2 separate regions of the Homo sapiens genome follow, and region 2 is linked to region 1. Evidence: fine-mapped expression QTL. A gene starts in region 1. The other region holds a variant in brackets. All regions are shown on one strand. Distances are between the middles of the regions.

Region 1 (5,367 bases):
AACCAAATCACCTGTGGGAAAACCAAGTGTTACTGTGGAAACTAGGTCAGACTCAGGGGATACTAACTCACATTAATAAAACTCACACTGGACCAATGGGTAGCCCAGAATGTCCATGGGTCATTTAAAAGAGAAGCATGCCTGCAAAAGCAGCCCTAGTCGCTCCAACCAGCTGGGCAGTGCATTCTCTGCCCTAAAGGACATACAACCAGAAGATTCCCTGGTGGACATGGTGTCTCAGCAAGGGGACTTAGTTGTTTGATCTTGATAGCCACTGTCACCTGGCTATCGGAAGAACATAATGACTCATCTGCTTTCTAGGAATTTCCTGGGCAAAGTTTAGAACAGGTCAGGCTACCCATGACACTGGACAATACTGAAGATGCATGGACAAATTCTCGCCCTCTGGCTTTGCTTTGTTTAAAGACTCTATCATACAATTGTTCATTCATTCCTCAAATCTATATTGAGCTCCTCCTAAGTGCCGGGCACTGGGCTAGGTGGGTAGGGATACAAAAGAGGCACTGCCCCCTTGCCCTCCTCAGGGAGTTCACGGTGTTTGCAGAAAGACTGACAATTCCATACATAATTACCATTAATTGTGGTCAGTGTTATGAGAGTGAAGCAGAGGAAGCCAGAGGAACGAATGTGCAACATGTCAGCTAAGTCCACATAGGGGTCTGGGGAAGGGCTCCCCGAGGCAGTGTCCATGCACACATCCTTCCCTCAGCCAGGTGTCAGGGCACACTTGGGTCACTTGAATTCTGGCTCTCTTCAGCCAGTTGTCTGGCTACACCCTGACAACTCTGAGTGACCTCGGGTGTTTCCCTAGTCCCCACAAGCAATGCATCTACAAACTATCCCTTGGGTTGGGCTTGCAGACAATTCACTCTTTCATTCATTTAACAAATATTTATTGAGTCCCTATTAAGTACTGAAGCTAGCTCATTTCACCATGGGGAACTTTCGCCCCAACTTCCAGAGGTGCCTTACTGAAGCCCCCTGCACTGATTCCAGCCCACTTCAGAGCCTCTGGTTTCTTTTGGAGAGATGGGAGGACAGTTGAGGACGAGGACAGTGCAGCACTTGATGTCTCAAAGAATGGGCACCTGGTGTCGGGTAGTGACTCTCCCTCCCAGGAAGTAAATTAAGAAACTCCCCTACCCACCCTCCCAGCCCCTGTCCACAATTGCTTTCTGAGGTCCTTCCGTAGCACTCAATGGGCCTGGGATGGGCAGCTCTGCTGGCAGCAGCCGGAGCAGTGCCATGACCCAGGGAGACATTAATTCCTAGAAGCGGCAGAGGGCTGTGACTGGAGATTTGCTAGCCTTCAGGTCGCCTCTCATATAATTGTTCTAAGTCCAGTTTCTTGAGCTCTTTTATCAGATTCTAAACCCCTGTGTTCTCTTTGCACACTACCTGAGGGGCCAGGAATAATTTCCCCCATTGCACTGATGGATAGACCAAGGCACAGAGCTCACAAGCAACTTAACATTGGGGACAGAACTGGGAACCAGGTCTCCACCACAAACCAAAACCGCCTAAAGGCTCCCAGGGCCTCCCAGACATGGTTCTTCCCCTTCCTCAGGGGTGTTCAGAGGACTACTGTCTTCCCACCCCCTAGATCTCCAATCTTCAAAGCAAGCATCCCCAAGAGCACACCCCTCAGGTGGCCTCAATAGCTCCCATTGTCCAAGAGGCTCTTTGGCCTGACCCCCAGCCCCATAAGCAGCAGGACAGCAAGCTCAGAGGAGCTTGTCCTGCCTTGTCCCCCTCCTCTGCCTCGTCCCCCTCCTCCAGGGCCGCCTTGGGGGAGCCGGTGGGGCAGGAGCCCCGCTGAATGTGACCTATTGTCTTCGGGGTGGATTTAGGAAGTGCCAAGCTCCCATCACACAGCCCTGCTCCCCAGGTAAAACAAAAAAAGGGCTGTTCATTTGGGACCTTTTCCCCCTTATCTCCTTTTCCTATCTCCTCAGGCTTAGCTATGGTGTAGTGTTCAAAACCACTTCCCCTCTGAGCCAATCAGAAGCCGGGGCTCACCCCGTGGCCCTGAGGAAAAGTTATTTATAAACGCCTCCCTGGATTATTTGAGCAGAGCCCTTTCACACACCTCAGGAACACCTTTCGGCTGCCCGCTCCCCAGACACACCTGCAGCCCTGCCCAGCCGGCTTTGCTCACCCACTGGTAAGCCCCACCCAGCCCAGCCCACCCCACTGGGCTGGGGTCATCCCTGCAAGAGGGCAGTCACCAGGGGTACCGAGAGGAGGGATGACAGGAACCAACTGCCAAGCTGAGCACAAGTAGGAAGGACACTCTGGCCCCTGGAGTCTGAGAGCAGCCTCCCAGCCCTTCCCCTCTGAGGAGCCCTTTGGGTCTTCACGTCTATGTAAGGACCTGGGCTGCAAGGCTGGGCTTGACTGAGGGAGCAAGTAGGGTGAGGGTGTGGTGGTCGCCAGACCCCGAAACAGAGCGAGGCAAAGGCCTCCGAGGGAAAGGAAAATGTTAGACCTTCCTCCGCGACAGCCTTTGAAGCTGTGGGCTGCTCCTCTCCCTTTCTTTTCAAGTCTTGGAGGGAAAAGCTCTTAATGCTTGACTCACCAGCCTACTCTGCATGGCTGTCTCCCCCTCCTTCTACCGCCCAGACATCCTCCTTCACTCATGTACTTCTCCACCAGCTCGGGGAACTTAGCATGGACTACACAGAATCCCATGTGTCCCCATTAGTCCTGAGAAGTTGGAAGAGGTGGAGGGGGAGGAAACTGAGGAGTGGGAGAGGGTGAGCAAGGGACCAGCTCCATCAGGCAGGCGGGTGGGCGGTAGCTGGACCTGGGACGCCCGACTCAATGGTGAATGCTTCAACACAGAAGGGCTTGGGCCAGGACAGTGGATGGGCAGCCAGCTCTCCAGGCTCTCAGCCTCCAAACCCCTCATCCTGCAGCTCCAAGGGGTTCCAAGCCACTCTCAGGCAGTGCCCCCATTCCTCAAAACCAGCCCAGAGGGTCCCCAGCTGAGACCTAACAAAGCTTCTATTATTCCAGCATCAACTGCCCCCTTACACTTGGCCCCACGGGTCTGAGGACCAGAAGACCCTGGAGTGACGCAGCCCCCCAAGTGGGCAGACTGAGAGAGGGCTTTCCCCCTGAGTGGCTTCACTCATGCAGATGACCCTTTCTCAGAACCCCACAGTCCTCCCCCACCTCCCTCATCCTGGCCCTGGCATCCAGAACCTGGCAAGACCCTGCTTGGGCAGCATGGAGACCAGCATGGCCAAGAGCACCTCCACTGCCAGGAAGGCCTTCCCAGGCACTTCCCAGAGCTAGCCACCTGCTCTCTGAGTCTCATTTGTATAAACCCTGGGGCAGAGACGGACTCCTCTTTATCTTTTAATGCCCAGAGTCTTCCGGAGATTGGCATATACCCAGTATTCAAGAGTGCCTCTTAAACCGTACTAAACAGCCAGACTGACCCCCGTGAACTTGCTGGGGGAATCGAGGACCAGCTCAACACTGACCAAGCTTTGGGGGCTGTGGGGTCACTACTTGGAAGATGGAAGGGGCAGAGCCACCCCTTCAAGGGGAGTTGATCTTCACTGGATGCCTCTCTGGGCTTTCGCCTGGATTTCTGGGACCAGAGCAGCTGGGCCCTTCACTGGTCTCCTTGCCCAGGCCCTGCTTCCAAGTGAAAGCAACCCCAGTCTCCTTAAAGACTTCTAGGAATTTAACCTCAAGTGCCCATTCCAGGGAGCCCATGACCTTGTCAGTCTTGCTGTTAGGAAGTGATTCTCAAAGTCTAGCCTTGGTCCCTCTTTCTGGAGCCTATTTCCTCAGCCCAGCACCCATTCCCAGCAGGGAAAGTGCAGAGGAGGGAGAGTTCGCCTGGAGATAAGGAGTGGGGATTTGGGGGGTGGTATCAGTGAATCTCTCTCCTACACGGGATGCAGTCTCTAAGACACCTTAGGGACATCTCATCCTCCCCTACACTGAGGAGGAAATTAGGCTGGGGTGAGGAGTAGGGAGAGATTTGCCCTGGAAACACAGGGACAGTAGAAGGAAAAGGAGTGTTTAAAAATGCCTTGGGGGGCTGGGCGCAGTGGCTCAGCCTGTAATCTCAGCACTTTGGGAGGCCAAGGAGGGCAGATCACTTGAGGTCAGGAGTTCGAGACCAGGCTGGCCAACATGGCGAAACCCCGTCTCTACTAAAAATATAAAAAATATTAGCTGGGTGTCATGGCGCGCACCAGTAATCCCAGCTCCTAGGGAGGCTGAGGCAGGAGAATTGCTTGAACCCAGGAAGTGCACCCTGTGGTGAGCCAAGATCGTGCCACTGCACTCCAGCCTGGGTGACAGAGGGAGACTCCACCTCAAAAAACAAAAACAAAAAAACAAAACAAACAAACAAAAAAGCCTTAGGGGTGCAGAGGCCTCTACATCCTTCCTCCTCCTGCCATGGATGTGGTCTCCCACTGAGACCCCAGCCAGCTTGTCTGTCCCAGCTCACATTCACACCTGGGTCACTCAGAGGCTGCTCTTACCCTGTGGCCCCCACCCTGGATGAGGCAGGGAGGCAACCAGCAGCTAGAGCAAAGGGGAAACCTCAAGGTGACCTTTCCTCTTCCCAGAACACAGCAACCGGCTGGCTAGGAACCAGTGATAAGGATGCCAGGGTGGGTTGGCCCAGCCGGGGCTGTTCCCGTACCTGGCACACATGCGTCAAAAACCCCCTCCCTCACATGCACACCCCCGACAGGACTGAGGGAGGAAGTCAGCCTGGCCCACAGTGACAGGATCACCTCCAGATCCAACCAAAACCCACAAATGGACCCCTCACAGTCCTGCTCTGCAGATGTTCTACCCTCTTCTGACAAGATTTTCTGCTGTTCCTCTCATCAAGTCCTGGGAAAATTTGGAGGGGTTAAGGCATGGGGCAGCAGGTATAGGGGCAGATGGAAAAAGGCAAGCCAAAAAAAGGCAGAGTGCCCACTAGAGATGGCAGAGCAAGAAAGAGGCTCCTCTGGAGTCATAGCAGTAATGATGATAGTTGGAGTTTATTGCATGCTTCCCATGGCCAGGTGCCGTTCCGAGCCTTTCAGTGCATCCACTCGGGCACTGTCTCTGCCTGAGCCCATCTCTGCCCAAGCCCATCTCTGCCTACAATATTTGGATGGTGTTGACAGAGACCTGGTTAGAAATGTGACTGGGAGAAGGTACCAGGGGCGTGCTTTGGCATGAGCTCATTGGAGGAGAAATCCTGGAGAATCTCAAGAGGGAATCTGCTCCAGCCTGTGCCCTCCCTGCAGGGTCTATTTTCTCTTTGCTTCCCCTCTCCCAGCTACTCCGGCTCGCACGACCCCTGCATCCCCTCTGCTC
Region 2 (5,367 bases), 25 kb after region 1:
GCTTCCTTAGCCAGGATCTGGAGTCCAGGCCAGCCTTGGCTGAAGCTCTAGACTCCCTGAGCCTCCATCCTCCCCTGCAGCTTCTGTCTGAAGCCACAAAGAAGTCTGAGAATCTAAGCTACTGAAAGAAAAGATCAGCCGGGCGTGGTGGCTCACTCCTGTAATCCCAGCACTTTGGGAGGCCAAGGCAGGTGGATCACAAGGTCAGGAGTTCAAGACCAGCCTGGCCAACATGGTGAAACCCCGCCTCTACTAAAAATACAAAAATTAGCCAGGTGTGGTGACGGGCCCCTGTAGTCCCAGCTACTCGGTAGGCTGAGGCAGAGAATTGCTTGAACCCAGGAGGCGGAGGTTGCAGCGAGCCAAGATCACGCCACTGCACTCCAGCCTGGGCAACAGAGTGAAACTCCATCTCAAAAGAAAAAAAAAGAAAATATCTAGCCCCACAAGAAGGGGCCATGGTGACTTTAAGTGCCCGCCACGTTGGCAAAAGTCCATTTCCGCTCCACTTCCCAGAGAAACCGTCAGCCAACACTCCAGGGAGAAGTGGTGTGCTTTGCTGCTATTTTTGTCTTTGGCTGCTGGGCTCTCAGGGTTGCTTATTTGTTTGGCTTCCCCTCTGAAGTACGTTTTGTGAATCACTTTTGAGACCCACTCAGAACATTCCTTTCCTTTTGCCTCCCTACCCCAACAACACTTCTAGCTGAGCTCCACCTATGGGAAGATCGGCGTGAAGGTCTTCTTGGTGAACATCCATGGTAAGAGAAAGAGGACATTTAGGGACTGAAAGACTGGCAAGGAGTGTGGGGTAGGAACAGGTTGGTGGGGTCTGAATAGTGAGGAGGTTGGAAACGAGAGCACCCAGCTATCCCCCACAAGCTGCTGCCTGCTCATAAAAGCTTCAGGTACAAGTCCAAAGAGACTGGTCAGATTGCATAAACATCCTAGGGGCCTTAGTGACAGAGTGGGGGTGAGGAGGTCATGGAGTTACAGAAGGACAGCTAGGATTCTAATCTACCCCATAACTAATTTGCCACGTATCCTTGGCCGAGTCACTTTATCTCTCAAGGGATCTATTTCTACCTATGTAAAACGAGAGGGTTGACTAGATGGATTTGGGGATCCTCTCCCAATCAGAAACTCTGTGAATCGATATAGGCATAGAGCACACGGTACCCTAATTCCCCAGGGAACATATAAATATGCAGTTTTGTAGGCATACAGCCTCCAAAGGGTGCATATACACAGCCTCAAGGACGTGGCCACAGGGCAGCAGACATTTACATGACTAGCATGTACGCAAAGTGCAGAGATGTGGGAGCAAGTGCACACAGACACACAGGAGAATGTGAAGGGGCACATACACACACACCCAGCTCCCTGCACTGGGTCAGACCCCCTCCAGCAGGGCTGCAGTTCCCAAGCTCCGCATGGCCACGTTCGGGGAGAGAATCTGCAGTGGCAATGACCTGCTATGATATGTTCTGGAGTTAGAAGCAGTGGATTCTCCCCAACCTCACTGGACACCCCCTCAGGAAACCATCTCTAGGATTAAGAGTAATCCACACAAACTTCCAATGCCACACATTGGAAGTTGCTGGAAAGGTCTGGGAAAACAAGAGGAAGGATGGGTCCTTGGGGGATAGAACTGGCAGCGGCCTCTTCAAGGATGGCTTAGGCTTTTCCACTCGAATCACCACAAAGTACTGACTCCCTAAATCAAACTGCTTCCTTCTGCTCTGGGTTGAAACTTCAGCATCCTCAAGTTCATGTTGCCCTCTGCCGTCCAAAACTGATATTGCACTGCCAATGCCATGGCCCTCAGATACAGCAAGAGCTGGGACCTCAGGCCTCTCCCATCCCTGCTCTGGTCTCACTATCTTCCCCACCCCCAGCTCCAATCCACAATGGCTGTTATCTTTCTGAAGGTGATCTTTTCTCCTTCTAGCCCAGGTGTACAATGACATTAGCCATGGAGGCGTCTTTGAGGATGGGAGTCTAGAATGCAAGCACGTCTTTCCCAGCATACATGACGCAGTCCTCTTTGCCCAGGCAAATGCTAGAGACGTGACCCCAGGACACAACTTCCAAGGGGTAAGGTTCTTGCACCTGGGGAATCCTAGGCTCCAAGGCACTGAAATAGCAGGACCAAGAGGCATTATTAGAAAGAACACAGGAGAAGGTTTAAGTTCCAATATCAAGTCTGCCATTTCAGTTTTCTGAATCTGTTTCCTTATCTATAGAATGAGCACCATCAACTAACATTACCTACCTCTCTGCATTTTTCTTTTATTTTGTTTTAGGGTTAAATGATAATTACATCTTTTGTGTCACTTGAAAGCACTTTGTGTATTGTAAAAATTCTTTATCAATATAAGTTTTCTGGTTGCACAAACACCCAAAGCATAGTAGAGCAGGCCCACTCTGCTGGCATCGTTCCCTGCCTCCTCCTCATCTCTTTCTAAAGGGGGCTTTCGGGAAGGGAGGGGAGGGGAGTAAGCCTACCCATTTTAACTTACCGGAGCTTAGAGATTTCAGGCTGGTGAGGGATAAAGAGATTGGGTCTGAGTTTTGTCTCAGCTTTTTGACATTTAATTTACTAGCTCAGTAAGTTACAAATGGGATACAAATAACACCATCTAAAACTCCAGAAGACTGGGGAGTCAGAAAAA[G/T]CCTACCTCCTTGGGGTCCCTGCCCAGATCCCCAGTCATCTCTAGCCCTCAGGGTCCCCTCCCAGCTCAGCTCCTGCCCTTGGCCTCCCAAGACTCTTGTTGTGCCCCAGCCCTGGGTAAAAACCTCCCCTGCCCTCTGTGGGTCATAAGAAAGGCTTTTCTGGCCCTAGAGCAATGATTTGCTCTTTGCCTTAAGAGACTGATGAAGGTGAAACCATCTGTTCTAAGTGCTGAAAGACTGCCCAGGAACACACAGGGCGCTGGCTCCTGCCCTCCATGCCTAGAGGGAAACCCTGGGGAAACAACGGGCTTTCCTGCTTCGTGAATTTGTCCGCAGAGCAAAGAGGGAGATTCTGGAGGAAGCTGCATTAGTTGTTAGTGCCCTAATCATGTTCAGCTACTCTAGTTGGTATGTATACTTGATTAGTCATAGACTTATAAATAATTTATATTTTATATAATATATACTTACATATTATAGACCATTCACAGATACAAATCACACACATAAACACACACCTTTTCAACAGCATTGTGAGGGACAAAGCAGGCAAAGTGAGGCTGGTTATCAGACTTGAACAGATTAGAAAATATATTCCCAGGAGGACAGGAATTCCCCAAGGTCAGGCAGCTAGCCAATAGTTTTTCTAAGCTGAGTAAAACCTTCCCTGCCTCTAACGGCCCACAAAGGAGGGAAGACCGCGATACACACCTGTCTGGTATAAGGGGGAAGACCACAGCCGTGCTGTTTTTGTGAGGCAGGTAAGGGAAGGGGCAAGAGGATAAGTCATGTGTCAGGAAGCAGCGTCCAACCAGAGCCGGCCACCTGTCCCTTTTCCTGCCACCATGCACCAACTTTGCTGTTCAGTCACTGAAGCTCATTCTGCACTGGCTTCCTCCCTTCCAGGCTCCAGGGGATGCTGAGCTCTCCTTGTACGACTCAGAGGAGGACATTCGCAGCTACTGGGACTTAGAGCAGGTGAGCTGAGGGAAGGGGCTGTGAGGGTGGGAGCAGGGCGAAGAGGGGAAGGATGGGGTCGCTGTCAAATACAAGGCGTTCACTCAGCTGTCTCACCTCCAGCCCAGAGCAGTCACATTCAAGGCCACAAAGATTTGTGGTCATCTTTGTTTTTTTTCTTTTCCTTTTCTTTTTTTTTTTTTTTTAATTTGAGACAAAGTCTCACTCTATCACCCAGACTGGAATGCAGTGGCATGATCTCAGCTCACTGCAACCTCTGCCTCCCGGGTTCCAGAGGTTCTCCTGCCTCAGCCTCCCGAGTAGCTGGGACTTCAGGCCTGCGCCCAGCTAATTTTTGTATTTTTAGTAGAGACAGCTTTTCACCATGTTGGCTGGGCTGGTCTCGAACTTCCGATCTCAAGCAATCTGCCTGCCTCGGTCTCCTAAGTGCCTGGATTACAGGCATAAGCCACGATGCCTGGCCTTTGTTTTCATTCTTCTCACTCCCTGAAAGTTATCGTGGGGAGAGGGTGAGTCACTGGACCAAGTCCTAGAGAACCAGTATCTATTCTTATTCTCCAACACATCACCCACGTGACCCTGAGCAAGCCACATACACCCTGGGCCCTAGTTTTTATCATCTGTGAAATTAGGGGAAACATAGGTAATACCTGTCCCATCCACCACACAAGATTGGCAGGGCAGTCACTTGTTCTTTCATTAATTCAGCAGGTATTTATGGCGTACCTACTGTTTGCCTGACACAGTTCAGGATGGGCACATAGCAGTGAGCAAAACAAAGGCCTCTGCCTTTTAGAAACTTACGTTATGGTAGAATAGATGGATTCTGGGTCTACAAATGAATTATTATTGCATGTGGACAAGCCTTAAGAACTAAAAAATATGTGGCTGGGTGCAATGGTTCACACCTGTAATCCCAGCACTTTGGGAGGCTGAGGTGGGCGGACCACCTGAGGTCAGGAGTTTGAGACCAGCCTGGCCAACATGGCGAAACCCCGTCTCTACTAAAAGCACAAAAATTAGCCAGGCGTAGTGGTGCATGCCTGTAGTCCCAGCTACTCGGAAGTCTGAGGCATGAGAATCACTTGAACCTGGGAGGCAGATGTTGCAGTGAGCCGAGATCGTGCCACTGCACTCCAGCTTGGGTGACAGAGCTAGACTGTCTCAAAAACAAACAAAACAAAACCTAAAAGATATGTGGATATGAGGGATCACCATCCCCATAGGGCCCCTGGATTAACACCACCCCACCAATGCCCTGAATTAAAAGAAACCAGATGACTAGGTTTGGAGAAATCTGGCTTTGGGTCTATGAGAAGTAGTGTCTCTCTTTGTGCCTCTTCCCATTCTTTTTGACATTGAGCTCCATGGTGCTCTGAATCCGTCTCTCACAGTGCTGATGGCAGGTGGGACAGATTAGAAAATAGAGCTGGAGCCACAGAGATTTGGCAGACTGATTTCGGTGCCCTCTTGGAATCTCCAGCACATTCCAAAAAGCCTGGATAGGACCAAAATAGCTTATCAACGTGAGAAAGGACTTCAGAGCTTGTCTACTGCCAACCCTCATTTTACCCAATGAGGAAAGTGAAGCTATTAGGGGGCGAGGGACACGTGGAAGGTCACACAGCACACAGGAGGTGATTCACATGTAGATTTCAGCACCTGCTCCTGCCACGCTGGACTGGTTCACCTCCTAGGCTGACCCTGCCTCTCCCC

Alleles and levels. Alleles are on the strand shown, and positions count from the first base shown. SD is a standard deviation of normalised expression in the study named.
With allele G in place of T in region 2, the expression in aorta of the gene that starts at base 2,094 in region 1 is higher (moderate effect, 0.44 SD a copy in GTEx).

Evidence for each region.
Region 2: its variant is fine-mapped to the expression of SLC26A9 in aorta (GTEx, PIP 0.94).

What each region holds. Positions count from the first base shown.
Region 1 is chr1:205,940,183-205,945,549 of GRCh38, reverse strand. It overlaps SLC26A9 (solute carrier family 26 member 9), which reads left to right and starts at 2,094. Exons shown (of 21, transcript NM_052934.4): 1 at 2,094-2,185. All of the region lies in intron 2 of SLC26A9-AS1 (SLC26A9 and RAB7B antisense RNA 1), which reads right to left.
Region 2 is chr1:205,915,567-205,920,933 of GRCh38, reverse strand. SLC26A9 (solute carrier family 26 member 9) reads left to right here. Exons shown (of 21, transcript NM_052934.4): 18 at 704-758; 19 at 1,949-2,094; 20 at 3,580-3,651. Among named protein-coding and RNA genes, the nearest start is that of SLC26A9-AS1, 17 kb to the left of the region's middle. RefSeq lists enhancers at 1-369, 370-901. The variant G/T (reference allele first, on the strand shown) is at 2,673.